Homo sapiens: one gene and its partners. The protein of the gene in region 7 purifies or fractionates together with the protein of the main gene of each other region. This does not show direct contact. Each region holds a gene or a part of one and is shown on either strand. Other genes may lie near its edges.

What was found.
Region 1: the proteins of VIPR1 (region 7) and XPO6 purify together in Homo sapiens (affinity purification with mass spectrometry; 2 studies listed by BioGRID and IntAct, with this or other methods). This does not show direct contact.
Region 2: the proteins of VIPR1 (region 7) and SLC7A2 purify together in Homo sapiens (affinity purification with mass spectrometry; 2 studies listed by BioGRID and IntAct, with this or other methods). This does not show direct contact.
Region 3: the proteins of VIPR1 (region 7) and PTDSS2 purify together in Homo sapiens (co-immunoprecipitation; 2 studies listed by BioGRID and IntAct, with this or other methods). This does not show direct contact.
Region 4: the proteins of VIPR1 (region 7) and SLC25A17 purify together in Homo sapiens (affinity purification with mass spectrometry; 2 studies listed by BioGRID and IntAct, with this or other methods). This does not show direct contact.
Region 5: the proteins of VIPR1 (region 7) and ARL6IP5 purify together in Homo sapiens (affinity purification with mass spectrometry; 2 studies listed by BioGRID and IntAct, with this or other methods). This does not show direct contact.
Region 6: the proteins of VIPR1 (region 7) and HACD2 purify together in Homo sapiens (co-immunoprecipitation; 3 studies listed by BioGRID and IntAct, with this or other methods). This does not show direct contact.

The regions. Positions count from the first base shown.
Region 1 is NC_000016.10:28,100,089-28,104,233, forward strand, and holds part of XPO6 (exportin-6), read right to left. Parts: intron 1,858-4,145; coding exon 1,759-1,857; intron 1,601-1,758; coding exon 1,370-1,600; intron 1-1,369. UniProt on the Homo sapiens protein: Mediates the nuclear export of actin and profilin-actin complexes in somatic cells.
Region 2 is NC_000008.11:17,499,565-17,503,964, reverse strand, and holds part of SLC7A2 (cationic amino acid transporter 2), read right to left. Parts: intron 2,652-4,400; exon of another isoform or gene 2,584-2,651; intron 1,709-2,583; 5' UTR 1,663-1,708; intron 1-1,662. UniProt on the Homo sapiens protein: Functions as a permease involved in the transport of the cationic amino acids (L-arginine, L-lysine, L-ornithine and L-homoarginine); the affinity for its substrates differs between isoforms created by alternative splicing.
Region 3 is NC_000011.10:452,882-457,281, reverse strand, and holds part of PTDSS2 (phosphatidylserine synthase 2), read right to left. Parts: intron 1-4,400. UniProt on the Homo sapiens protein: Catalyzes a base-exchange reaction in which the polar head group of phosphatidylethanolamine (PE) or phosphatidylcholine (PC) is replaced by L-serine. Catalyzes the conversion of phosphatatidylethanolamine and does not act on phosphatidylcholine.
Region 4 is NC_000022.11:40,808,902-40,813,301, forward strand, and holds part of SLC25A17 (peroxisomal membrane protein PMP34), read right to left. Parts: intron 1-4,400.
Region 5 is NC_000003.12:69,094,576-69,098,975, reverse strand, and holds part of ARL6IP5 (PRA1 family protein 3), read right to left. Parts: intron 1-4,400. UniProt on the Homo sapiens protein: Regulates intracellular concentrations of taurine and glutamate. Negatively modulates SLC1A1/EAAC1 glutamate transport activity by decreasing its affinity for glutamate in a PKC activity-dependent manner.
Region 6 is NC_000003.12:123,490,559-123,494,958, forward strand, and holds the end of HACD2 (very-long-chain (3R)-3-hydroxyacyl-CoA dehydratase 2), read right to left. Parts: coding exon 4,330-4,400; 3' UTR 996-4,329; downstream 1-995. UniProt on the Homo sapiens protein: Catalyzes the third of the very long-chain fatty acids (VLCFA) elongation four-step cycle (condensation, reduction, dehydration, and reduction).
Region 7 is NC_000003.12:42,535,323-42,538,435, reverse strand, and holds the end of VIPR1 (vasoactive intestinal polypeptide receptor 1 isoform 1 precursor), read right to left. Parts: intron 3,094-3,113; coding exon 3,052-3,093; intron 2,347-3,051; coding exon 2,155-2,346; 3' UTR 868-2,154; downstream 1-867. UniProt on the Homo sapiens protein: G protein-coupled receptor activated by the neuropeptides vasoactive intestinal peptide (VIP) and pituitary adenylate cyclase-activating polypeptide (ADCYAP1/PACAP).

The DNA of each region.
Region 1 (4,145 bases), on a different chromosome or scaffold from region 7:
GAGATTCTTGTGCCTCAGCCTCCCAAGCAGCTGGGATTACAGGCGTGTGCCACCACACCTGACTAATTTTTTTTATTTTTAGTAGAGACAGGGTTTCGCCATGTTGGCCAGGCTGGTCTCAAACCCCCTAACCTCAAGTGATCCGCCCGCCTTGGCCTCCCAAAGTGCTGAGATTACAGGTGTGAGACACCGCGCCTGGCCTATAACTAGATTTTGAAACCACAGCTTTAAATCAAAAAGTTGACTGATATTGATGTCGTTAGAAGCTGATCATTAAGTATTAGGATCTGGCCTCTAGAAAAAGGAAAAAACATATCCAGGGGCTGAAGTGAACTGGAAGAGGCTTAGGAGAGAACAAGTCCCAAGAAAAGGAAGACCCCAAGACAAAGGAGAACAGGATGAGTCTAAGCAAAAGCTTCCCTGCCACACGTGGCAAATGAGGAAAGCAGGCGGCCAGGTTTGCACCAGTGAGAGCAGTGTGTGCATCTGAGCACTACGGTGGAGCCGTGGACAAGCTGCTTCACAGAGGACTCAGGTCAAGAACCCCAAGAGGACCAGGGAGAAAGCGATTTCTTTTCCTAATTTCATCAAGTATAAAACGGTACAAGGAAAAGTTCCCAGAAGTTCCTATCAGGCAAGAGAGAGGCCTGGTCACCTGACACAGGAAGAAGAGAACAGGTGAGCCCCATGGGGAAGGAGGTCCCAGGCACTGTCAGGCTCCAACAAGATGGCCTCATGGACACCAAGAGCCAGCAGCACCCAGCTCCCACCGAGGTGCTGCACGGGTGGGGACAGCCCACCTGACAGTCCCTGCACAGGTGGCAGCAGTGGGACAAGAGGGTGAGTACTAGGAGGGCTCCTCCCAGGACCTGGCAGCAACTCAGCCCAAGCTGAGCTGGGGCTGGTCTGGAAAGAGCCCAAGACAGCCGGGGAACCTGGGTCCCACCTCTAACCCTGGGGACCCAGAAGTGCAGCTCCCAAGCACCAACCATCTCAGCCTGAATGCAAGCCTGGGCACACTCCAATGCTGGCCCCACCGGGGCTCATCACCCAGGAGGGAGAACGGCAGGGTCCTGGGTATGAACAAAGATGCCAAGACAAATGGAGGGGCTGCAGAGCCAGGAACTCGGGACCTCCATGGCTGAGACTAAGAACATACGTGCTACAGACACCAAGACTGGGGAAAAGGCTGTGCCCCTCAATCAGGCTACAGCACCAGGTCAGCAGGCATCTCGTGAGCTGCCGCCAAGCTGCAGGGTGGGCACAGACCACGCCCAGAGGCCTCAATGTGCCCCCTCCTTGCTGCACAGGTGCCAGGCTTGCGTGCCCACTCTGCCCTCCTCTTAGCCCGGCCTCTTTCTCTCCTCACCCGATCCATCTTGAAATTCCGCCCCAGCACACTTTTCTGGTTGGCATCCACACCATCACAGCTGGTCAGGAACTCTGGGAGGAAGGCGGCAAAGAAGCCATCAAAGTCGACTGAGGCCATGTTGTAGATGGCGATGCCAATCTCCTCCTGCAGAAGATCATGGGACTTGTGGACCAGGACCTGGAGCAGCACGTTCACAAACTGGAACAGCATGGCAGTCCGGAAGATCTTCTGCAGGCAGAGAGACCAGGTGAGCAGCAGCCAGCCCCCAGGGGCCTGTCCCGGGTCCCATCCACTTTCTGTCACACTCTCCAGTGAGTAACCTGAGGGTGGGACACAGGCCACAATGCCCCTGATGGAAGAATATTTCCAAGAGCTGGGGCACTTACCTTGTGGTACAGCTTCTGCTTGGTGTTGAGAGTCTCCAAGTAGAAGAGATTTTGTTTAAAAAGGTGGATGTCGGGCTGGAGAAAGGACTGTCCGAAAGCCTAGGAAATGAGACCACCATTTTATAAACTGCAAGACCAAGCACTTCTGGAGCATCTACCCCATGTCAGAAGAACAAGTGCCAGGGCCAGGGTACCCATTGTCTTGATGCTTCTGGCCCACCAGCTCAGACCTCTACGACGCTCCTCCTAAGTCTCAGAGTTCATGTTTTCCCCACCGGGCCTTGCTTCTTATTATGGTCTCATATATACCTTTTTTAACAAACCTCTAGAAACCCATCACAGGACCTGGCTTTGAAGCAAGAAGCTCACACCTCTAGTCAAATCCCTCAGCAATCCTGGCAGACAGACACCAAAGCCTGCCTGCCTGCTCCTGCTCAAGCCAAGCAATCCCCTCCCTTGCCCTCCTTCTTGCATCCCCCGTCTCAAAAGCCACAAGCCCTACAGGCTCCTTCATGGAGCCTCCACCTGGAGGTTAAGCCTCTGCCTGGGGGCTAAGCAAAGTATTTTTAAACTGCTTTGGAATTCCTGGGTGTAAAAGTTACTAGTTCAGTCCAGGCACAGAAGCTCAGTCCTGTAATCCCAGCACTTTGGGAAGCCGAGGTGGGCGGATCACTGAAGGGTGGGAGTTCAAGACCAGCCTGGCCAACACGGTAAAACCCCATCTCTACTAAAAATACAAAAATTAGCCAGGCGTGGTGGCGGACGCCTGTAATCACAGCTACTCGGGAGGCTGAGGCAGGAGAATCACTTCAATCCAGGAGGCAGAGATTGCAGTAAGCTGAGATCCTACCACTCACTGCACTCCAGCCTAGGCAACAGAGCAAGACTTATCTCAAAAAAAGAAAAAAGAAAAAAATTACTAGTTCAGGGGCAAAAAGAAACACCCCGCACACCAACACAAAGTGCCCTGCTCCAACAGAAAGAATAGAAAGTGACCATGGGGGCAGTCGGGGAGGCCGGTGGTCTGCAGGACCCCCCTACAAAACAAGTGGTGACTGCTTTGTCATTCTGTCCCTGGGCCCCTAAGCTACCAGAGGAGGATCTTGTAATCCCTGCAGCAGGGATGAGATCTCCATGATGACCAATAGTTTCCACTTATTTACTGTTTAAAGTTAGGTTCATGGAAGTATAACAGAGTAAACTTTTGAGGTTTATCTTTCTATGAATTCTGACCTACCTGTGGATTTGTACCACCACCATCACAACCAAGACAGGACACTTCCATCACCTGGAACGTCCCCTCACACCCTCACCCCTAAGGCAACCACTGCTCATTATCTGTCCCTGTGGTTCTACCTTTTCCAGAATGTCATAGAATGGCATGGGATCCTACCATGCATAGCCTTTGGCATCTAGCTTCTTTCACCTGACAGAATGCATGTGAAACTCATCTATGCTGCTGATTGTACCAAGAATCCATGCTTGCTTATTGCCGAGTGCCAGTCCCTTAGAGGCATGCACGAGCCTGTTCATCCATTCAGCTGCTGGATACTCAAAGTGTTTCCAGCTTTGGCAATTATGAAACAGCTTCTATAAACATCAGTGTACAGGTTGTGTGAACATATGCTTTCATTTATCTTGGGTAAAATACTTAGAAGTGAGACTGCTAGGTCATACAGTAACTACACACTTAACTTTAAAAGAAACTGCCAAACTGTGAAACTATTCTCCAAAGTGCCTTTCACCAGCCCTCAGTGGGGACCAGGCACCAGCGTGCCAAAGAAGTCTTCCAGGCAAGGACAGGGTTCAAGAGAAAGGCAGGGGAGGCGCAAACACTTGAGTACTGCAGACCTGAGGCCTCGGTGGGTGCCAGGGATGGGAAGGCCAGGGCAAGGGCACGTGCCTGAAAAGAACTGCCACACAAGAGTCAGTATGTGTGTGTGTGCGCGCGCATGCGCACGTGCATGCCTGTGTGCATGCTGTGTGCTAGTAGGGAGCTGGAGGGAGGGTGGAAATCCCTCTTGCTTCCCCATGAGGAAAAGCATGCACTGAAAATACCAAAAGAGACTCCCCTAGCTAGACTCAGATGAGAACGTCAGACACTTGAGTGCAGACCCTGGGAGCGTGCCTGACACAGCCACAGAGCAGGCTGGCTGTCTGGGCGAGGTGATGCCGTCCCAGTCTTCCACAGCAAGGGGTATTTAGCCCCCAGACAGTGCACTCTCTCCAATGGACAGCTGCATCTGCCCTGAAAGCGAATGCTCCCTCCCAGGGCAGTGTTTCTCCCAGTATGGTCAGAGTCAGAATCACAGTGCAGGTCTGGGGCCCTCCTGCGGAGACTCATATTCAGGCAGCTCCCCGCTAAGAAGGCCCTCGGTGACTCTGGC
Region 2 (4,400 bases), on a different chromosome or scaffold from region 7:
AGTGTTGCTGAGGACTTAAGGATGGAGGGTCAAAACTCACCCCAGGCTCCTTCTAGGTTTCCCCAGAACTCAAGAGCAAAGACGTCTCCCAAACAATTGCTTAAATCACAACTGAATTAAAGAAACCACTTAAAACTTGCTGGTGAATTCAAACATAAATATAAAATTGTATTGTTTCATATGATCATTAAACAAAAAGTCCATACAGAGTAGCCTAAAGCTTTGAGCTCAGGCTTTTCCCACAGGAATTCATACCCACATTGATACAAATTATCATGAAGAGTTTCCATTTGAATTTTTGTCAGGACAAGTACCTTGGCAAGTTGCAAATATTCTGCGAACTATGAGCGCCGCGTATGAATAATAAGTACTCTTTGATACAAATTATCATGAAGAGTTGCCATTTGAATTTTTGTCAGGACAAGTACCTTGGCAAGCTGCAAATATTCTGCGAACTATGAGCGCCGCGTATGAATAATAAGTACTCTTTGCTAGAACAGATAAGGAACACCGCGGGAGTGAATATAAAGTGAATTTCAGGAAGGAAAAAACTCGCGATCTAAAGAAAAAGCCACCCTTCTGAAGCATAAAATTTTTTTCAATAAAGATGTTTTCAGCCGGGCGCGGTGGCTCACACCTGTAATCCCAGCACTTTGGGAGGCCGAGGCGGGCAGATCATGAGGTCAGGAGATCGAGACCACCCTGGCTAACGCGGTGAAACCCCGTCTCTACTAGAAATACAAAAAATTAGCCGGGCGTGGTGGCGGGCGCCTGTAGTCCCAGCTACTCGGGAGGCTGAGGCAGGAGAATGGCGTGAACCCGGGAGGCGGAGCTTGCAGCGAGCCGAGATCGCGCCACTGCACTCCAGCCTGGGTGACAGAGTGAGACTCTGTCTCAAAAAAAATAAAATAAAATAAATAGAAATAGAGATGTTTTCTACTTGAAGCAAAAACACACAGAAGAAATTTGTGAAAATTTTATTTACGAATTGACTTATGGAAAGTTCATTTAAAATTTTATTAACTTATATAATATTTTTAAATAATAATATAATGAACATGCACCCAGCACCCAACCCAAGACCTAAAATGAATACTATTTACTGCCCATGTAAGAACCAATCATGGTATTATAGCAGTGTGCCGTGAAGAATTATGATTAAAGAATTTGGAGCACCTGAGGTCCATTGAACAAAAACCTTGTGAAGTGATTCCCCTAGGAAAAATGGACTCATTCCAGGATTCCTTTAAATAATCTGCCTGAGTAGACTAAAAACTGTGAATCAATTTCTTGTCCAAAACCCCCTCCACCCAACCTCTCAGGAATGATTATCAAAAATTTTCTAAAAGGTACATTCACAAGAACCAGGAACCTGGAAAGTGAATCAGTGATACTCAACTCCGTAACTTCATGGAAATCTTCCTTGTGCAATGGAAGAGCAATATCTTATAGGAATTGAAGTCCAGTAAAGATTCTTTTAAAATATTTTTTTCTTCTACTAGGCCAATGGTAGGACACTAAACTGAATGTGTTCCCTTCTAACAGAAGAACTCTTCCCTCTCTAATATGGAATAGGCACAAATCTTTCCACTGTCAACATTTTTTTTTTATCAGTCCTTTTTCCATTCCAACGTGCAAGCCAAGATTGAAATCAGCACTAACCTGTAAGGGCTCACTGCTTTCCTGCTGGTCTTCAGAGAGTCTCCTGCTGGGAGAAGCAATGATGGGAGTGATAACTAAAGGACTCATGTGATTTCTCCATTCTTTTTTTTTCAAACCTCCACCTCCCAGACTCAAGCGATCCTCTCACCTTAGCCACAGATATACTCCCACCATACATATATATACGTATATATATAATTATATATACATATGGTGGGAATACATATATATATATAATTGTAGGACGACTTAGGAGGACTTGATGAAGCCAAAATGGGTTAAGGAAAGAAGAGAATTTTCCCCACAACTGTGGGAAAAACTAGTAAGAATCAACAAGGGACATACAAATTCTTTGTTGTGTATTGTTCACCAAATATTCCAAAAATGAATATAACACAGTTGGGACTTTTTTTTTTTTTTTAAGCTCCTGTTACAAAGGTCATGGAATGTTCTCGCATCACTCGCCTTCCCGATACTGAATCCCAGATTAGGCTCAGTTCTGTAGAGGGGGGCTAGTACGCAGCAGTGCCAGAATGGGTGTGTGGGTATTGCTTTCATTTTTTTATCTCATTTTACATATTTTATATTTTATGTTTTGCAGGAGGATGGGGATACGGTGAAAAATTAAATTCATGACATTTGCAGCACTAGAATGCTCCAGCTTCATGATTCAGTCTTGGGTGTATAAAGTCCCGTATCAAGAAATTTCAAGATTTTCCACAACACATCACATCCATACACACCCAGAATAACAGGGGACCACATGTCTCTGAAGAGAGAGATTCATACTAAAAGTCTAAATAAAAGTCTAAATAATACTAAAAGTCTAAATAAGAGACGTGACCCACATATTCAAATCCAGCCTCTAAAATAGCCTTATTAACTCAAATCTTCTCTCAAGTCAATACTAATTATACTTACCAGTGAGGTCAGCGTAACAGCAGCAGAGGCCTTTCTCAGAAATATTTAAACTTTAAGAGTCCATAAGAGGCCGAGCACAGTGGCTCAGGCCTGTAATCCCAGGACTTTGGAAAGCCGAGGCAGGCGGATCACTTGAGGCCAGGATTTCGAGACCAACCTGGGCAACATGGTGAAACCCCATCTATACTAAAATTACAAAAAGTAGCCGAACATGGTGGCACACGCCTGTAATCCCAGCTACTCGGGAGGCTGAGGCATGAGAACTGCTTGAACCCACGAGGTGAAAGTTGCAGTGAGCCAAGGTCGCACCACTGCACTCTAGCCTGGGCGTCAGAACGAGACTCTGTCTCAAAACAGAAAAAAAAAAAAAAGTCGATAAGAATGTGAAAAGCAACAGCATACTGCTTGCTTCCATAGACTGATATATAACAGTTTCCATTACTAAGATGGACAAGAAAAATTAATAGGTGATTCATGCTGTGATTACCTTAACTAATTGAAGCCTGATGGAAATGAACTCCTACTTGGCTGGGATTCTGTGTGTGTGTGTGTGTGTGTGTGTGTGTGTGTGTGTGTGTGTGTATGTGTGTGTTGAGACAGAGTCTCGCTCAGTCACCCAGGCTGGAGTGCAGTGGCACGATCTCGGCTCACCGAAACCTCCACCTCCCAGATTCAAGCAATTCTCCTGCCTCAGCTTCCCAAGCAGCTGGGATTACAGGCACCTGCCACCAAACCTGGCTAATTTTTGTATTTTTATTTTTTATTTTACTTTAAGTTCTGGGATACATGGGCAGAACACACAGGTTTGTTACATAGGTATACATGTGCCATGGTGGTTTGCTGCACCTATTAACCCAATTTTTATATTTTTAGTAGAGACGGGGTTTCACCATGTTGGCCAGGCTGGTCTTGAACTTCTGGCCTCAAGTGATCTGCCCGATTTGGCTGCGTTTTGTCAATATCATCCACAACATTTCCATAACCACAAACACCACTTCTAAAACAAGAGCTAGAAAGTCAAGTAAAAGGGAAATATAAGAGGAATGCGGACAAATTTGTTACTACTAGTAAAATAAAAATGTCCAGCACATGTGATTTTGATGATGAAATAGTAGCATCGCCTTCATGTATTAGAGAGAGCATGTAAATTACTTGCTTTGCGGCACAGACAGGTCTGAAATCGTCTGCTTAGAAGTGGTGGTATTTTTTAATAGAGTACAGCAAAATAAAAAACTGCTCTTAAAATCCATCAATGGAGTTCCCCAAATGTAAACATAATTATAGAATCCCTCTAAAACCGGAGTTACACATTACTTTTTTGATTTTCCAGTGTACAGAGTAGAAAGTAAGTTTTCAATGAAGGAATAAATACATTTGAAGACAGATAAAACATCTTTTCTCAAACTGTTGAAATCAGTGGCATTCACTCAACAATAAAGACATATAAGCATGTGTTATGTGACACATACTATATTAGGTACTAAAATGAAAAGTTATTAAAATGGAAGACAATGACAAGAACAATTCCATTAGTTTTCTGTTGTCATTCAAGGTTGTATCTATATGGTTTTTAATATCCAGATTAAAGTTTTAGAAATTAATTAACAGCTTCGATTTTCAAGCCCATTTAGACAAGTGCTATCACTTAAGTGAAATCTTAGTTAACTAAGTTTTTCAGGATTCATTTGGATGACAAAGCATTCAAATGATGCACCCAAAACTAAATATGTGAGTATTTAGAAATATATTCCACTGAAAGCTTTTGCTTTTGTTCTAAATGTTTGGCATCTAGTAGGTAGTCTATAAGAGTCTTTAAA
Region 3 (4,400 bases), on a different chromosome or scaffold from region 7:
AGCGTGGTTGTGGCGGTGCATGGGCGTGTCACCTGCACGTGGGTGCTGCACTGAACGCACCCACACCTGGACTTAGCCGATTTCATGAAGAGCCAGGGTGGAGCTGCAGGACTGCAGGTGGAGGCTCCAGGCTGGAACTTTCTGTATTTTTTGTGCAGATGGGGTCTTGCCATGTGGGTCAGGTTGGATTTTTTTGTATTTTTTGTAGAGACGGGGTCTTGCCATGTTTTCCAGGCTGGTCTCAAACTCATGAACTCAAGGGATCTGCCCACCTTGGCCTCCCAAAGTGTTGGGATTACAGGCATGAAAGTGAATTCTTCTGCCATATTTTACAATACTAGGCATTTAAGACAACCAGAGGTAAATAAAAGTTTCATTGTGACTATCAACCACCTTTTTCTTTAGATACATTTGCATTTGAGTCCTAAGCCATGAGGAAACCGCAGGGAACCTCAGCCTTCCTGCTGAGCTCCACACCGTGGGGCCCTTCAGTACTGAGAGACCTGCCCACAATCACAGCAGAGAACCCACGTCAGAAGGCCCTCTTAGGCCCCCATTCCTAAGGGTGCCTGGATTCGGCGACCCAGAAACTCACCCTCTGCTGAACACTACACTTACAGAACGTGTCCTCCTGGAGACAGCCCTTGAGGGGAAACGGGCTGGGCTCAGCTGGGGCCCAGGAGTCCCCTTGTCCCTGGCCTGCCCCTCCATGAGGCCCACCCTTTCCTCCATACAGGTGACATCAGATTTCGGTGAGGAGAGTAAGATGACCCCGGTTAGGATAAGAAGAGTCAGGAGTGTTTGGGGGCAGGTACCGTGGCTCACACCTGTAATTCCAGAGCTTTGGGAGGCTGAGGCAGGAGGATCACTTGAGCCCAGGAGTTGGAGACCAGCTCGGGAAACATAGTGAGACCCTATTTCTACCAAAAAAAAAAAAAAATTAACTGGATGTGGTGGCGCATGTCTGGTCCCAGCTACTTGGGAAGAGGGAGGGTGAGGGGAGATTACTTCGGCCCAGGAGTCGGGGACCGCAGTAAGCTGAGATCACATCCCTGCACTCCAGCCTGGGTGACAGAGTGAGATTCTGTCTCAAAAAAAAAAAAAAAAAAAAGAATGAAAGAAAACAGAAAGAAAGAAAAACCAAAACAACAAGCAGGTTTAGATCGCAAAGCCAACGACGTGATGACAGCCAGGAGCGCGGTGGCTCTGGCTGTGTCCGTGCCCCGGGCCAGGGCACCTTCATGCCGTGTGCGTGGTGCCCGCAGGCAAGTCAGGGCCGGTAAGTGACACTGTGAAGGTCATGCAGCAAGGCGGGGGGTGGGGCCCGGAGCCTCCTGGACACTGGGCCATCACAGCCATTCCCTGAGCCCCCGCCCCAGCCACACCCGGGAGAAGACACAGCCTGCGTTCCTGAGCCTTCCTTCCAGTGGAGTGAGACCAATACAGGAGAGCTAAGAAACCCTACACGTTATAGAGAAAAACAAAAGAGGGATGGGAGTGGTTAGGGAGGTTAAAACAACTATTTTTGTTGCAAAGCCAGGTCCCAGTAAAACCACGCCAGGAGGGCTCGTGGCCTGGGAGGCATCTCCGGAGACCATAGCAAGAAGGGAGCGCGAGGAGCAAGCACTCTCGGGCTCAGCCTCCATCCCCAGCAGTTCTGAGAAACAGCAGGGACCTCTCCAAAGGGTGCACATGTCTGAAGTGACCTTTGGAGGAGCCAGGGACAGTCTCATCCTGGGGCTTCCTGACGAGGTCACCTTGTAGGAGGAACAAGGTCAAGGGGCTCCAGACACCCAGAACCCCGCCAAGGGCCCACAGCACAGACAGACAGGGTGTGGTGTGCACGGGAGCAGGACTCTGCCTGGCTGGAGTGCAGATGCCGGGACAGGAGCCTGCTGTGAGGGAGGCCTCCAGTGGGGAAGCTAACAGGGCCTCCACAGGACCCTGTCTTGGAACCACACGGCCACCCCACGTGAGGGGTTCTCACTCTGGGCAGTAATGTCTCTAAGAAAAGAGGGGTGAAGGAGCCCCAGCCTAAGGGAGGCTAACCGTGGAAGAGACAACAGCCCATCAACCTGCTCACATGCAGAATGGGAGACCCAGAAGCTAGATCAACGTGAGGACACCACTCAACCCTGTTCTGCAAGAGACCAGCAGGAAACCCCTCGTCATCTCCATGTGGGCTCAGGAAGAAGATGGAAACGACCAGGCCTCAGGGACACCCAGAATGCCACCACTCCACACACAGGCCCACTGGAGGAGGAGGCTGCACTCGGCCCCACCCTGACCCTCGGACGTGCCTGCAACCCAGTCAGCATCTCCCAGATACAGCACAGGCTCCCATTCACATGCAGAATCCCAGGAATAAACGCAAAGCTCAAGGGATGGGGTGAGCAGCCTGTGTCCCACCAGCACCAAGTTCCACAGCACACAAAGACAGGATCACACACTAACACAAGTTAAAATTGAAACTTGACTTCTTTTTTTCTTTTTGAGATGGAGTCTTGCTCTGTCACCCAGGCTGGAGGACACTGGCGCGATCTCTGCCTCCCAGGTTCAAGCGATTCTCCTGCCTCAGCCTCCCAAGCAGCTGGGATTACAGGCGCCCGCCACCACACCCAGCTAATTTTTGTATTTTTAGTAGAGACCGGGTTTCACCATATTGGCCAGGCTGGTCTTAAACTCCTGACCTCGTGATCCACCTGCCTCGGCCTCCCAAAGTGCTGGGATTACAGGCGTAAAACTTGACTCCTTTAATACGACTTTCCACGACAGAGACCTTCCTGTGGTTTCTAAAGTGGCCACCAACCCAACACTCACTCCTTGTGTAGCCCAGGGAAACGCTGATCATTGATCAACCCTAACCCAACACCATCTTTCCATTTCCCCAAAACACAGAGATTACCTGAAATATAAAGGTAACCCTTCGCCCCTTCAGGTAAATGTGCACACTGTCATTGAGGTGGCCACCGAGTGCCCAGCACCCTCCTGGCCCTGGGGAAGCAGAAATGGGAATGAAGAGGACCCAACAGGAAGGGAGGCAGAGGGTAAGGGACCCAGAGAAAGGGCACCAGGCACAGCAGCCCTGCAGGAGGACACATCTCAGAGCTGCTCAAATCCAACGCTCCTGGAAAGTAAGGTCCGTATTAGTGAGCTCCAGTCCTTGTCCTACACGCAGCACGACGTCTACACATCTTGGAAGTGACAGAGTGCCGCTCAAGATAGCATGAGACTCTCAAGGGAAGAATTCCGTGTCCCTCCCAGGACGCCAGGTCTGTTCAATGGCTCCTCCCACCCGCCTGCAGACTCTGCAGGACGGTGTATGTCCTGTGATCAGACACAGAACAGAGCTGTGATCAATCCTGGCAATTCAGCCACTTCACTAGGGTGAGGGCGTGAAGACAGCTGGCTCCCTGCCATGGGGAGTGGAAAAGACCCAGCTGCCTCCTTGGAGATGGTCACTCTCATGTCCACTCTCATGGTGGGCAGGGAGGCCGAGACCAAGAGGAAAACGCGGCGTCGTCGTCCAAAGGGCCAAGGAAAGGCCACGCCTGGATGGGCAGCCCAAGGCCTGCGAGAGGCTCCTGGACCGGGCACTGGCCCTTCTGGCTCTGACCAGCAAGACCAGAAAGACTTCATCTGGCTACTCGCGCCTCCCAGGTGTAGGCAAAGCTGGGAAAGCCCCGATCCAGGATGATGGAGAAAGGCATCTTCCAGAAACCTGGGGTATCTGAAGGTCAGAGGTCACCTCACACATAAAGTCCTCAGGTCACTGAGAAGGCTCATTTGAGGCACCCCATTCCAAGACACAAGCATACAATAAAAACTCTCAGAACATCACAGTGGCCCCCAGCTCGGGAACTGGTTAGCAAGTGTGGTCATCCGAAGCTGCTTCAGCGTCTCCCACAGACAGGCGGCAACGTTCACAGGCACCTCGCCAGGGTAAGGGGTCCCCAAGTGTTCTCCCAAACAATTTCCAGACCGCATGAGCTGCCACATCTTCGCACAGGGCTTCTCGGAGTCTGTGGATCTAAACGTTTTCCTCTGGATGTTCCCCATAATTGTCCTTGCTACCCTGAATGAATCCAGAGAAGGAGAGCTCAGCCTCGTGCTCCCAGGGCCAGTCAAGCCCTGAATCGAACCGCACGCCCTATCCCTATGGCTGACAAGCAGTCACAGAGAAACAAAATTCACACATGGCCGCCGTCACTGGCCCGAGGAAGTGCACCCATCCTTGAAAATGAACGCCCTGGCTGGATGTGGTGGTGCATGCCTGTAATCTCAGCAATCTGGGAGGCTGAGGCGGAAGGATCACTTGAGGCCAGGAGTTGAAGACCAGCCTGGGCAACACAGGGGGACCCTCTATTAAAAATAAATAAATAAATAAAAATGAATAAAAA
Region 4 (4,400 bases), on a different chromosome or scaffold from region 7:
AAAATTTTCCAAAGGCTATGCATAAATGTGTGATATTGCAACAGACTGAATTCAGAAGCAGATAAAAGGATCCAGCTATCTTCTATCAAGTCAAAGAGAGGTTTGCAAAACTATACATCAATGCCATTCATCTTATGACGTTTTGGAAAATATGGTTTAAAAAATATAGCTTATGTATGTTAACATGTAATGGATGTATTTTACCTTTTTTTTTTTGTAGAGGCGAGACAACATTGGAATTTTAGGTATGAGCAACCACACCCAGCTAATGTATTTTTAATGATTTTTAATGAATTAACAAATATCTTGGCCGGGCTCAGTGGCTCATGCCTGTAATCCTAGCACTTTGGGAGGGCGAGGTAGGAAGACTGCTTGAGGCCAAGAGTTCAAGACCACCATGGCCAACAACATAGACCACATCTCTTTAAAAAAACAAACAAACAAAAAGGCTCACACCTGTAACCCCACTTTGGGAGGCCGAGGTGGGCGGATTGCTTGAGCCCAGGAGTTCGAGACCAGCCTGAGCAACATGGTGAAACATGTAGAAACCCAGTCTCTACAAAAAAATTAAAAAAAAAAAAATTAGCCAGCGTGGTGGTGCACGCCTGTAATCCCAGCTACTTGGGAAGCTGAAGTGGGAGAATTGCTTGAGCCTGGGCTGTTGGGGCTACAGTAAGCTGAGATTGTGCCACTGCACTCCAGCCTGGGTACACAGTGAGACCCTGTCTCAAAAAAAAAACCAAAAAACAAAACCAAATATCTCAATGATTTCTCAGTTTTAATTTCTAACACAATAATATTGATTGTTATAACCACATAAGCAAGACTCTGGGGTTGGTGAAAATTTTTAGGAGTGTGAATGGGTCCTATGAGTATAGTTTGAACAGAGGCCATTAACTACAAAAAAAATACATTATTAACAAACTTCATTATTATATACTATCATCTAACCTGACATCATCACACTACCTCTGGGTTGGCCACTGTCCTTTCCAGGAAAACTCTATAAAAAGGTAAATACCTCCAGGAAGCTATATATTATATAGGATATTAATTATATCCTACAATTAATGTCTTACAGATGATCATTTATTAGGGTTTTTTTAAAATGATGGGCTGTGATATTATGATGCAAAGTATATATCTGGTCCTCATCCTAGGCTCCTGACACAGAGCTCCTGGTAAAATTCTTGTAATTTCCTGAATGATAGGAATGTCTTTTGTTATAATAGTGTCTTAGTCCCTGGTTCCTGATACAAGAGCATCCAAGACCCTTGGAATCTCCAGAGTGCTAACAGTGTCTTTTTGTATACTGGTGGTCCCTATCTTTTAGTGCATTAATTGCATCTTCAGCTGTATCTAATATGTTCAGAAATCTGTGCTTGAATCTGAACATATCACTAAGCTTCAACAATTAACAAATTCATAGCTATGCATTAAATATTCTTTTTTTTTTTTTTTTTGAGACAGAGTTTCACTCTTGTTGCCCAGGCTGGAGTGCAATGGCGTAATCTCAGCTCACTGCAACCTCCGCCTCCCGGGTTCAAGTGATTCTCCTGCCTCAGCCTCCTGAGTAGCTGGGATTACAGGCATGCGCCACTACGCCCGGCTGATTTTGAGTTTTTAGTAGAGACACGGTTTCTCCATGTTGGTCAGGCTAGCCTCAAACTCCCAACCTCAGGTGATCCGCCCACCTTGGCCTCCCAGAGTGCTAGGATTACAGGCGTAAGCCACCGAGCATTAAATATTCTAATAGTAAATTTTTAATCGATCAAAGCAAAGCATGCACATAGTTTAAAAAATCACATAGTATAAATGACAAAATATAGCAGTTTTTGCCCCACTCCTCTCTATTTTATCCAATCTTCCTTCAGAGAGGCAATTAAATTCTTCTAGTTGTTTGTTTTGGAATTTATACATCTCCATATAATAATATACTGATATCTTATTAATCATTTTTAGACATTATTTACATTCTCTTATGGGGAATGAGAATTCAGCTCTCTTATACCACATTCCCTCTTTTTTTGTGGTTATTGTTTTGAGACAGGGTCTCACTCTATTGCCCTGGCTGGAGTGCAGTGGCACAATCTCAGCTCACTGCAACCTCCACCTCTGGGTGGAGGTCAATTAATCCTCTCACCTCAGCCTCCCAGGTAGCTGGGACCACAGACGTGAGCCACCACACCCAGCTAATTTTTGTATTTTTTGTAGAGACAGGGTTTTGCCATGTTGCCCAGGCTGGTCTTGAATCCCTCTCTTTATTCTCTCCATCCTTCTAATAGTTAAGATTTTTGCTTAAATCAATATTCAGTGTTCCCATGATTATCATGTATTAACTTTTATTTTTAATTTTTGTTTTTTTTTTTAGTAGAGATGCGGTTTCACTGTGTTGGTCAAGCTGGTCTCAAACCCCTGGCCTCGAGTGATCTACCCGTCTCAGACTCCCGAAGTGCTGGGATTACAGGAGTGAGTCAATGAGCCTGGCCAATCGTGCAGTAACTTTTAAATTGTAGTCATTTTATTTCTAGATTTCTTTTTTTTTTGAGACAGGGTCTCATTCTGTCGCCCAGGCTGGAGTGCAGTGGTGCAATCGTGGCTCACTGCAACCTTGGCTTCCCAGACTCAAGTGATTCTCCAGCCTCAGACTCCTGAGTAGCTGAGACTACAGGTATGAGCCAGCACAGTGCTGGCATCTGCTTCTGGTGAGGGCCTCAGGTGGCTTATGATCATGGTGGAAGGTGAAAGGGGAACAGGTATGTCACATGGTAAGAGAGGGAGTAAGAGAGAGAGGCGTGGGTACCAGGCTCTTTTAAATAACCAGCTCTCCCATGAACTAACAGTGAGAACTCACTCATCACCAAGGGGATGGCACCAAGCCATTTATGAGGGATCTGCCCCCATGACCCAAACACCTCCCACTAGGCCTCACCTCCAACACTGGGGGTCACATTTCAACATGAGATTTGGAGGGGTCAAACATCCAAACTGAGATTTGGAGGGGTCAAACATCCAAACTGTATCAGTCACATAAACGATTTTTAGCCTAAGTTCTTGGGGATTTGGGGGTTCCTCTTTTTTGTGAACAATTCTGAACTGACACCTGGATTTCTTTCTTTTTCTCTTTTTCTTTCTCTCTCTCTCTCTCTCTCTTTCTTTTTAACTTATTTATTTTTAGAGATGAGGTCTCACTACATTGCCCAGGCTGGTCTCAAACTCCTGGCCTCAAGTGTTTTGCCTGCCTCAGCCTCTCAAAGTGCTATGATTACAGGCGTGAGCCACCACGCCCAGCCTGGCACCTGGATTTCTTAAGAATGCATCATCATCTACATTTCAGGCTACTTACTAAAAAAAAAAGATGGTTTATTCATTCTGGGCTATATCTCTCCTGTAAATATCTAAAGTATACTTTTTAATTTGGTCAACACAATCCACATATGAAGTTGGGCTTACAGATAGAGTAAGAATGAAACACTGGGTAAATCTGGTCAAGACTTGGTCCCCCCAGCGTGTGCAATCTTATGGGAATAATAGATAAGAACATACATAAATACAGAAGCATATTTTCATGCCTTTTAAGCATAAAACAATGATGTTTGGGTTGGTATACCAACCAAATCACCAAATGTGACTGACTGTTTCTAAAATGTTGATTCATCCTAGCAGGGTGAAAACTAGTGGTGGGGGTAAAAAAGACAATGCTAGTCCAAAATCAGTTTCCAGAGGGGTCCCGACGTGGCTGAGTCACAGCAGCACCACTGAAATCAATGTATAGCCTCTCCTGATTTAGAACACTGCATTATAGAACAGAAAGATTATTTTAAAGCCAGACACGGTGGCTCACACCTGCAATCCCAGCACTTTAGGAGGTGGGAGAATGGCTTGAGCTCAGGAGATTGAGGCTGCAGTGAGCTGTGATCATCCCACAGCACTCCAGCCTGGGAAACACAGTGAGACTTAGTCTCAAAACAAATAAAAATTTAAAAAAATTTTTAAAAACCACCTAAGATGTTTTCTGTGGTTTGAGCTAATAAAATTCTAAAGATTAAAAGCCACTTACAATGGCTTTCATATTTAAAAATGTTATTCACCTCATCAGAGTTAATGTAAGTCTTTTCCCTGACATAACAATCAAGCTAACTCATACATACACAGACAGATAGGCAAGTTACACAAATGGCCTCATGGATGACACTCTCGAGTGTTTAGGGATAAAATATAGGTTTACGTCCCAAGTATAGTATATATTACATAAGTAACTTCAAATCTCTATGTCTCAATTTCCTCATTTGTAATTTTGAGACCGGTATTTGTCAAGGTTGCTATGAGAAGTTAGAATCAAATTATGGAAAGTAGCTGGGCATGGTGGCTCACACCTGCAATCCCAGCACTTTGGGAGG
Region 5 (4,400 bases), about 27 Mb from region 7:
CAGAATATAGTCTAAGGAATTAAACAAAAACGCAAAGATTGAGTTGTAACAGTATTGATATTAGTGGTATTTATGATTAAAAACTTTCAGAAACGACCTATATGGCCAACAATACCAATAGCTGTGGTATTGTATACACAGCTATTTTTAAAACATTGAAGTGCATTTAATAATATGGGAAGACATTATATATTGAGTGGGTAAAAGCAATTGTAATACATAATGCATTGTCTGTTAGGTAGATTTATCATATAAGTTAGATAGCTCAGAAGTAGAAGTTTCTAGGCTGAGTACAGTGGCTCAAGCCTGTAATCCCAGCACTTTGTGGGGGCCAAGGTGGGTGGATCTTTTGAAGTCAGGAGTTTGAGACCAGCCTGGCCAACGTGGTGAAACCCCACCTCTACTAAAAATACAAAAATTAGCTGGGCCTGGGCTGGGCATGGTGGCTCATGTCTGTAATCCCAGCACTTTGGGAGGCTGAGGCGGGCAGATCACCTGAGGTCAGGAGTTCAAGACCAGCCTGGCCTACATGGTAAAACCCTGTCTCTACTAAAAATACAAAAAATTAGTTGGGCTCGGTGGCGGGAGCCTGTAATCTCAGCTACTCGGAGGCTGAGGCAGGAGAATTGCTTGAACCTGGGAGGCGGAGGTTGTAGTGAGCCGAGATGGTGCCATTGCACTCCAGCCTGGGCAACAAGAGCAAAACTATGTCTCAAAAAAAAAAAAAAAAAAAAAGCCAGGTATGGTGGCAGGCACCTGTAGTCCCAGTTACTTGGTAGGCTGAGGCAGGAGAATCACTTGAACCCGGGAGGCAGAGGGTGCAGTGAGCCGAGATTGCGCCACTGCACTCCAGCCTGGGTGACAGAGTGAGACTCTGTTTCCAAAAAAAAAAGAAATAGAAATTTCTATAATTAGTATATTATTTCATAATCAGAAATAAAATGAATATATAAAAAAGGAAATACAAAAACATAAAAGCAGCTGCTCTCCAACCCACAACCGCCGCTTGGCACAGACCAACCACAAAAGTCCATCTCTACTTGTCCCATCTCGCCAACAACATTAATGGAATTTCAGTTCATGAACCACAGCGAAGCTGTTCCTTCTCCAATCCAAATCCTGGTTTTCTGCTCATCCTCCAGATCCTCTTGTGCCAGTCTATAGCACCCCAGTGCCCCAACCTTCCCCAATACCCAGCACATGTGCTATTCTCTCTGCCCTCTTCCCCTCCCTCTTGGTTCTGTGTTACCTGGGTCTACTTGGCCTCTCTGCACTTTCTTTCTGTTTTATTTTATCTGGATTATGCCCTGTCTTCTGAGACAACCCCGGAATTGGTCTGGGAAAGAAAAAATTCCCTTATACGCCTGAGGAAGGAAAGAATCTGATGAATCAAAACCACAATCCCCTTCAGCAGGTTGTAGAGAGTGGAGAGTGAATGAAGAGGCCTTGAAACTCTTATAGATTAATATTATCTAATTCCCAGCATCACAAAAGATTCTAAGCCAGTGTGGTAGCTCATGTCTGTAATCCCAGCACTCTGGGAAGCCGAGGTGGCGGATGCATCGCTTGAGCCCAGGAGTTTGAGGCCATCCTAGGCAACATGGCGAAACCCCATCTCTCCAAAAAAAAAAAAAAACACCCCACAAAAATTAGCCAGGTGTGGCAGCACACACCTATAGTCCCCACTACTTGGAAAGCTGAGGTAGGAGGATCATCTGAGCTCAGAGGTCAAGGCTGCAGGGAGCTGTGATGGTGCCACTATACTCTAGCCTGGGTAACAGAGTGAGATCCTGTCTCAATTAAAAAATAAAAAGATACTTAGAGAAACTGAAAAATTATACCAAAGACTACAGTATAGTAGGATAAGGGGAGTTTATTTCCATTTGCTTATTTTTATTTTCATATTTTTTTCAATGGCCATGTATTCCTTGATGAATAAAAAAAATTGGTATTTAAAAATGAACAAATGAAATTGGGGAAAGGCTCCTGAATGTAAAAAACCCTTTACAAAGCCTTGACTTTGACCTATAACCTACCCAAATGTTTCTTCTGAGCCGTAAAGAAAAACAAAGATCGCCAGGTACAGTGGCTCACACCTGTAATCCCAGCACTTTGGGAGGCTGAGGCAGGTGGATCACAAGGTCAGGAGATCAAGACCATCCTGGTCAACATGGTGAAACCCCGTCTCTACTAAAAGTACAAAACTAAGCCTGGCTTGGTGGCATGTGCCTGTAATCCCAACTACTTGGGAGGCTGAGGCAGGAGAATTGCTTGAACCCGGGAGGCGGAGGCTGCAGTGAGCCGAGATTGTGCCACTGCACTCCAGCCTGGGTGACAGAGCGAGATTCCGTCTCAAAAAAAAAAAAAAAAAAAAAAAAGCAAAGCAAAACAAAGATCAAATCAACACAAAGAACTCAAATGGAGGATTGAAATTCAAGGAAATTCCTTTGCATACCCTGCAAGTAGGAGTGGGTTGGCTGGCAGCAAAGCATCAAAGGGCTCCTACTCAGTTCATTCTGGAATACTTATTAAAATAATAATTCATGAAGTGAAGCATATAACAAAATTCATGTCAAGCTGTTTTTATTTTCCTCTAGACAAGTAAAATACATATTTAGGTTGAGTGCCTAAAGTCCAGGACAAGGAACAATGAAAAATCCAGGCCTAACTCAAGCAATTCCAAATTTGTTTCACCTGTTCTGGTTGCTCATGTCCAAGAGAAAAGAACAGAGCCTGAAGTTCTATAGAACTGGTTTTAGTTCATAACCTGCCCAACAACAGTCTATAATTAGAAAGCAAGCAAGTTTCCAAGCTGGAAAAAAACTAACGAAGTTACTCTGAGCAGAAATTATTTTCTTCTGTATCTGATAAAATGTATACCACTCCAATGCCCTGGCACTTACCTGTATTTGGAACAAAAGACAGACAGACAGACAGACAGACACACACACACACACCCTCTACAGATTAACAGAAATTCTCAGAAATCTGGGAACCAGTTCTTGCCTGAGATGCTTTTTAGTCAACAGTTGGGCTGTTTATCACAGCAATCACGACAAACCCCAAAGACTTTTAGGACAAAACTTTCCATAAACATGCCACCCATCTTTCATGTAGACAGCTGCCTCTGTGGTCTGCTGGGTGGAGTTTCACTTACTGATAGTCCTAGAGTAAGAAAGAGGGCTGGGTGCGGTGGATCATAACTGTAATCCCAGAACTTTGGGAGGCTGAGGTGGGTGGATCAGCTGAAGCTAGGAGTTTGAGACCAGCCTGGCCAACATGGCGAAACCCCATCTCTACTAAAAACATAAAAATTAGCTGGGCGTGGTGGCGCATGCCTGTAATCCCAGCTGTTCAGGAGGCTGAGACACGAGAATCACTTGAACCTGGGAGGTGGAGGTTGAAGTGAGCTGAGATTGTGCCACTCCAGCGTGGGTGACAGAGCCAGACTCCGTCTCAAAAAAAAAAAAAAGAACGAGGGATGGTGAGAAAGAAGGGAGAAACAGCAGGACCTAGTTTTGCAACTCAAAAACCGTTATGTTTTTCTATTGTGAAATTAAAAATATATTAATACATATGTTTGTATATATTTTAATTATATATATTTAAAATATGAACATGTATTACCCAATTCCAATAAATAATTAATAAATCTTTCCCTATAATAGTTACACATTCTAGAGCAGTCATTTATGGTTATAAAAAGGTTTAGAATCCCATCACAGAAATTTTGTAGCAGTCTTCAAAGATGAATCAGTCTAGTCCAATTATACAGATAACTAAACTGAGGCCCAGAGAAGAAACATATCCAAAGGGATCCAGGAGAGAAACAAGAAAACAAGGGTGCCAGTTGTGGCAGCAACTCACAGTAGAACCCATTCTGTCATGTTAACCGGCTTTAAGGATTTCCCCCACACTCTAAGTAACCTACTATAACCAAGGATCATCCTGGAAAATCCCTCTGCACTCTCATTTCTCTCTGAAACAAGGTGGCTATTAGTGGGTGTGGATACAGGTCCTAAACTTCCCAACGTGATTCAGTAGCTATGTCTATAGTTTTACCACAAGTTACTGAAAGGGGAAAAAAAAATCTCACAAAATTTTAGAGCTAGGAAGGATCTTGCTAACCCACCTCATTTTACACGTAAGCAAGCTAAAGAATATACAAGTTAATAAATTTGTCCAAGGCCACCAATTGCAAAGTTGGCAATAAAAGTTTGCCATAACAGAAATCCTCGGATCAACTCAAGGCCACATTTGGTGACTCCTGTCAGGCTGCAAGGCCAAAAAGAACCACCAAAGAGGCAGCAAAATATTTCCTGAGGAGTACAGGCAGCTTTGCACTGAGTTCCAATTTTCTAGCCGAAAAAGCTATTTTTGAAGTGTGGTTTCTGAGGAAG
Region 6 (4,400 bases), about 81 Mb from region 7:
CGTGGTGATGATCTGAGAAAGAGCTGGCAGACTCAGGTGGGGAGCACATCACTGCTACAGGCACCATGATCAAGTCGTCACTGGGAAAAGTGACTAGAACATACCCAGCACCAGAGGCCTAGAGCTAGATCAGCTGTGACCCAGCGGAGGACACCCCAAGGCAGTGTCCTTCCCACCACTTCTTACTGCGAGCCTGAGTAAGGGGGGGCCACTCCTGGGATTCCTGTGTTTGGAGGCATTTTCAGAATGAGGTACTTGAACTTCACCACATCTTGCTTTAATGTAAGATGAACAGTGCTGGGCAACAGGATCTCCCGCTGAACTTCTGTTAGAAAAGTTACACTAACAGGCTGGGCGTGGTGGCTCACACCTGTAATCCCAGGCGTGGTGGGAGGCCAAGGCGGGTGGATCACCTGAGGTTAGGAGTTCGAGACCAGCCTGGCCAACATGGTGAAACCCCATCTCTACTAAAAATACAAAAAATTAGCCAGGTGTGGTGGCGGGTGCCTGTAATCCCAGCTACTTGGGAGGCTGAGGCAGAAACATCGCTTGAATCCGGGAGGTGAAGGTTGCAGTGAGCTGAGATCGTGCCATTGCACTCCAGCCTGGGCAACAACAGCGAAACTCTGTCTCAAAACAAAAAAAGAAAAGTTACACTAACAAAACCCCAGCTTGTTATAAGACAAGGTTCCTCAACCCCATGCTGATTAATATCTTAGATTCCCTGGTCACTTGCATGAGGAACCCCTTGTCCCTCTGCAGCCAGCTTGCAGACTGGCTTAGCCTGAAGACTGACTGGCAGGGAAGGACTTTTTGGAAACCTCTTAATATAATCTGTCTTTCCTGTAAGTGCAGAACCATTATGAATAGCAGAATTAGATTTTAAAATTGTCAAAGAGCTGGAGTCCATAATTGAACTGAAATTCTCCCATATTCCTGCAACACCACATTCAGGCCTACTGACTATGAAAAATCACTGCACTCACTGGTAGGTATTTCAAATCCAGGCAGAGCACACACCAGTTTATTTTGAAATGCAACACAGATCAGTATTTTATGAATACAACTTATTACTACATTATCAGGTAAAAACAGCTTTCAAATGCATGCATAGAAAGTTAAGCGTAGTCTCTGGACTCCTTATTTCTAAATATACAAAAAATACATTTAAATTATATAATTTTAGTGAATCAAAGACTTATAAAATTACAATTTTGGTTTTCACAACATAGAAAAAATACAAAAATGACTATATATACGGTTGTACAATTTTTTACCCAAATTTCAAAGGAGCAGTATGTATTGAATTTAATGTTTTATAATGTTTTATCTGAAACTCAGAACTGCAAGTAATTTGCAGGTTGTACCATATCAATGCCAACCTTTTATTATAAATGAATAACCAAAAAAATAAGTGAAAAATGAGGGCACGATCTCTTCTTACACCTCTTCAACTCTCCAGCATCTAAACCTTTCCTGTCAGAAGTCTGCTCTGGAGACTTTTTTCATCTGCAAGGACAGTGCTTTATTCCATGACTAACTCTCCATGGTGCCTCTGGATAATGGTTGGTATGTGTTAAATGAATAAGCCCAACCTCAGCAAACAGAACGCAGCAAGATGTAGATTAGCAGTCTGTGCTGACAAAAGCACTACTGCGGACCTCAAAGAATTCTCTGTCAGAAGAAGGCCCCCACGGAGGGATCTGAAATACATAATCAAGTGGGTAGTTGGGAGGATGATGCCTTTGACTATGCCCTGAAATGAAACCTCTAAGTCTGACAAAATACCCACAAAAACATGACCTTCCTTGTTCACACTTTATAAGAAGGTGTGACATTTGGTGGTGTGGTTGTTCTCAATTTATAAAATAATAAATGACTTCAAAGGAGAAATGAATTCATGTTAGGGATAAAGAAACCAGTTACTGAGAGAGGTTACTGAAGGACACAGTGACATGCCTTACTTATCTGCCATAAGTATTCTAAATGTTGATGTACAAAAATACACACTGGGGTTGAGACCCTTTTTGAAAAGGGAGCTGTGTGCTGTGTTCTCATTGCCAAAGTTCAATTCAATGCAACACCACTGTTTGCAACAGAATGTTTTTTATAAGTAGTGACAAATTATAATAAGGAGGCCCAAATAAAACCCCCAGTCCAGCAACCCTGGAAAAGCTGCATTTTTCATCCTGATTTCTAGAATTTTTCCAAAAACAACTGAAAAAATCTAACAGAACAAAGTAAATGACAAATATAACCCAAGTTGATTCTATTTTATAGTAGAAATACATTATGGAAGAATAAAATGAGAGAAAAGTCATGCAAAAAATCTTTCCCACATATTTTGTCTATCAAATACAAGAATAGATTCTAATTTCAACATGTCCAAGTTGAGTGCTGACTTTAAGAAGCAGAATTTTAATGTTCAATTCAAAAATAATTTATTACACACCTGCCTGCATTAAATTTTCAAACTTCTATAAAAATAAGCACTTAAAAATTTAGTTTTCCAGGGGTTGGGTGCAGTGGCTCATGCCTGCAATCCCAGCACTTTGGGAGGCTGAGGCGGGTGGATCACGAGGTCAGGAGATCAAGACCATCCTGGCTAACACGGTGAAACCCCGTCTCTACTAAAAATACAAAAAAAATTAGCTGGGTGTGGTGGCAGGCACCTGTAGTCCCAGCTACTCAGGAGGCTGAGGCAGGAGGATGGCGTGAACCCGGGAGGTGGAGCTTGCAGTGAGCTGAGATCGCGCCACTGCACTCCAGCCTGGGCAACAGAGCGAGACTCCGTCTCAAGAGAAAAAAAAAATTTAGTTTTCCAGTATGAGTTTTCTGATATTCGCAATTATATTTTAAATGACAACTACTCAATAAGCTAAACTTTTAAACTCTTAAAGTTCAACATCAACCCCCACCCTGCCCCCAAAAAAAGGCAGCTGCAGGGGATGGGGGAGGAAAAAAGGCTCCATGAAGAAGATACTGTGCTATTTAATACTTAATGCACATCTAAACTTGGGCTTTCACATTTTCATCCAACTCTTTCTTTCTTATTTTTTTTCAGTTTACCTACAGTTGCAGTACCAATCCTTTCTTGAGGAGTTTTAAATGCATGGTTGAGCAATTAAATTGTATGAGGATGTGACATGGATTAGACAATGTCGGTAGTACCAAACTATTTCTTGGCTGCTCCAACATGCGGAGATGACACTGCTTTTAGCTCATGACAGCCCAAGGGGAATGTTTTACTGACTATGGACTTATAGCTTGGTGGAAATTAACATAGGAAGTTAATTAGCAAAAGTATCCAAACAGAAGAGTGAATGAAAATTTAAAAATAAAACAATAATGGTGTATAAATCTATTCCTGAATGTTTTTCCTGACTACCTTTCTAAAGCAACACCTTCCATGTGCTTTCACTAACACAGCCTCCTTTCCTATGTGACTGGATCCGCTTCTTCAGGGCCATCAGTGCATCAGTGAGAATAGCTACTGGCAAACACGTTACTCAGAGGTGTTCTGAGAATGGTGCTGTGAAAAGGACTTGTCACTTTTGAGCTATTGAGCTCCCCCTTTCTGAGACCTGTCATTTTGTTAAGACATGATTGAGGCTGAGCTCCAGATAAGATATATTCTTTACGGTACACACATACTTATTAGATTCAAGCACGTTTCTTAGTGGCAGGCAGTAATGACTCAATTGGAAACAAACAAAAGGGTTCTAAGTTGTTTTCTGATTACAGGCACTACCCCGAAGCTTCATAGACATATACATTTTATAATTCATTCATTAGATGTGAGGGGATAGGTCCCAGCCATAACTTCAGAGCATTCCAGAGAACAGAGTTTGCCGCTTCAAAAATACAAAGTTTCCAGCATGCAGTCAAGCACTTTGACAAGGGAATGCTAAACACACTGCAGACTGAAACATAACTATACTGCAAGCTGGGCTATTCAGCTGGTACGACTTCATTATTCAGACTGTAACTCTCAAGTACTTAGTGTTACAGGTCTTCATTGATCAGATACATGAAGGACACAGAAGGACATAAAATGCCAAATCCCTTTCTAGTGCCATCATAAATATTAAGAACTTCTGGTTGAAAGAGCATGCTGAAATGAACTGGCCAGGGTGTTTTATGTAACAACCTTTTTCTAAAATAAAATCTCAGGCCCATGTGACACTGGATTTTTGTTTTAGTTTTGTTTGAATATTTTAAAAATAGTTCTTACTTATTTTCTATGAAACGTATTGGGAACTCAAAAAATCTGCAGCATTTTTTGATCATTGAAAAGTTTGTTTTGGTGGGAGGTGCAGAAAGCAGGAACTATTCAAATTTCTTGTGTTCTTCAGTATGAGAAAGGATCTTTCTTCTCTGGTGTATCATGTGGAAGTATA
Region 7 (3,113 bases):
GCAACTGATCAAAGGGCATTTCCCTGGGGGTGCCTCTGCCCATGGCTCACAGTCACTTCTATTCTGGCCTGAACACCCCTGACTCTGGCCTCTGAGGATACTGGGTTGGAACTGTCATTGATGATGGGTCCTGGAATGGTACTGGGTCAGACAAGGCATTGAAGTAGCTGGGCAGGCAGATATGAGCCTTTGCCAGCCCATTCTGACCACATTTTACCAGCTTGACATCCCTCTCCTGCTCCTCTAGCAAGTTTGCAGGAGGTGGGACCCAAGGAGGTCAGCATGGGAACGGCTTTGGAGACATCTCTTGCTGACTGATGATATTTGCCATACTGCCTCTGTGTCTAAACCTTTTTATTAGTGCCATATTGTCTCTGCTCACTCAACTTGTGTTGGTGACATTTGTTTTGTCCACTACCTACCTCCTCTTAGCTGAGCCCTGGGTAATTGCAACATGGTCATCCTAGACCCTTGTTTGCAGCAATGTCTGCGGCCTGTGAAACACTCACACTCAACCATTTCTGGGACCCTGGGCAGCTCTGCCAGCTGTTTTGTATTGATCTGAGATTAGAATGGTCTTTTCTTGGCTGGATTTAAGGAGTGGGGGGACACAATGGGGACCTGGTCTTCATCACACTCAGAGGAGAGAGGATACCACTCAAAAAGATGGGAGCTGAAGGCCCTCAGAACTGTGAATGCCTCATATGAAAATATGGATTTCTGTCAAAAGCCAAAAGAGTTGAGGCATCTGGTTTCAGTAATGTATTAGATCACCCATCCTTTGGGTGGAGGAAGATGGCTCCAAGTTGGAAGCTGGTCCCATTTTAGGCCATATGAGAATATCAACCACCAGGGGAACCAAGCCAATCCAAGCCAACATTTATTGTTGCACAAGCCTGTTGCAGTCCTGAGGGGATCTTCTGGCAGAGGTGTGGGTAGGAAGCTGAGTGGCCACTGGGGTGAAGGGCAGACAGAGGAGGCTGTGACCAGCAGGCTCCTATCCAGATGATACATGAGATGGAGGCCTCCTCAGCCACACTCCAGGGAGGGTGGGGTGGCAAGGGGGATTCAGGGATAATGGCATTAATAATACAAGTGGTAAACAAATAACCAAGAGGATCTGGCTGGTTACGATACACAAAAGTTAGCAGTAAGAGTCCGTGCTTTCACATTCCTATCAGACAGATCTGAGTTCAAATCCTGTATGTGTAGCAGGGTGAGGTATCTGCTTTCTGTCAGAGCCCATGGGTGCACATCTCTGAGCCTAGTTACAACAGTTGGCACATAGGTGGGTGGACAAGGAGGGCAGCTCTTGATTCCTGTTGCTTCCACAGCACAGAGAGATAAGTATGGCTGGTGTGACAGATCCCACTTGACAGATGAAGCCACTGAGACTTGGAGAGCAGGTAGGCTTAGTCCGAGACCTAGCATTCGCTGGTGGCTGCCTTCTCATTTCCCAGAGGCTTCAGAGTCCCTCAGTCCTTGGGTTGCACCGTCCTCCCACCAGACTGACCCAGGGGCCAGTCCACTTCGGTGGGGAACCACTAAGATAGGTGTGCTCTCCAAACAAAAACTCCAGAATAACCCACTTTAAAAAGCTGATAACTAAGCGTAAAGAGAGAATAGGGTAGTGAGCTGCATCTTCAGTCAAATGCCTGAGTGGTAATGCTTAACCCAAAGGAACTTGACAGCAATGGTGAAATTTCAGGCACTACCGTGGTGTTGGTGCTGGTGACCTTCCCGGGCAGAACCTTTCTGCCCTCAGGTCACACCAGTGTTGTTTGAGGATCCACCGGTTGCTTTCCTCCAATTGGGCAGAAGAGCCAGCAGGGGGCAGAGTCAGGATGAAAGTATGTAGACTTTTTGCCCTTGATTGGCGTAGGGGGCCTTTGGAGGAGGAGTCTAATGACTGAGTTCCACCTGCAATCCTCCAGGAGAGGAGCTCCCATCTCTCTCACTTGCTAGAAACGCTCCAGGCAGGCTCTAGGGCTGCGTTCTCTAGGAGTGTCCGGACCAGAGACCAGGGGGCCGGGGGCAGCCTCCGAGCCCAGGGCCGGGGCTGGCCGCGCCCGGGCAGGCCTCTGTCCCCGGCGTCTGCCGGGGTGAGTGGGAAGGGGCGGGAGGGGCCGCCTTGGGCCCCTGGGATCCTGGTGGTCAGACCAGGGAGACTTCGGCTTGGAAGCTGGAGGAGCGGCGGGCACCTGGGCTGACGCGGGTCAGCATGGAAACCTGCGTGCTGCACGTGGCGCCGTTGCTGCCTCCCGACGGGTGCCGGTATTTGGGGTTCCAGCCCAGGACGCCCTGCAGGTGCCAGCGCCGCCACTTCCGCCTCAGCTCCGCCTGCACCTAGGAGAGGGGAAGGTGGTCAGGCCCACTGCTGTGGAGCCTCTTCCACTGCTGATTGGGCTGCCCTGGACTTAGGGTTCTGAACTAGCCAGTCTTATTCTCTTTAGGAAATCAAAATGGAGGGACCCCTATGCTGCCTCGGGCGGTGCAAACTTGGGACTGGGTTGAGGCCAGGTTCAGAAGGAGGCCTTGGAATGGCAGGAGGTAAGAGGCAGAGAGGATCCTAGAATACAGTCCAGGGAGAGGGAGGGATGCTGCCTAGGGGTGACTGTACTCCAATTCTTCCCATCCTGGGTCTCCAGCTCACTTGAGTGGGTTTTTTGTGCAATGTAACCAGAGCTCCACAGCAACTCAACCTTCATTGGAAGCCCTCATCCCTCCCCACTCACTGCACACAGCCACTTAACTAGGTGTTTCTCAAACTCTGTTGTGCACAGGAATCCCCCTGGGGTTTAGTAAAAAGCTGTTTGTTTGTTTTTTAAAATAATTATTAAAATGCAGATTCTAAGCCAGCAGGTCTGGGGTGGTCCCAGAGATGCGCATTTTTAACAAGGGCCTAGGTGACACCAGTGCTACTAGTTTGAGGACCATACTTGGAGCAGCAAGGTTTAACCCGTCCTTGCTCTGCACATATCCCACCAATGTTTCCGGACCCTGGTCCTGGGAGTTCCATTGCCTAAGCCCCAAGGACTGGGAGGGGCTTACCTCACCATTGAGGAAGCAGTAGAGGATAGCCACCACAAAACCCTGAGAAGGAAGATGACAGG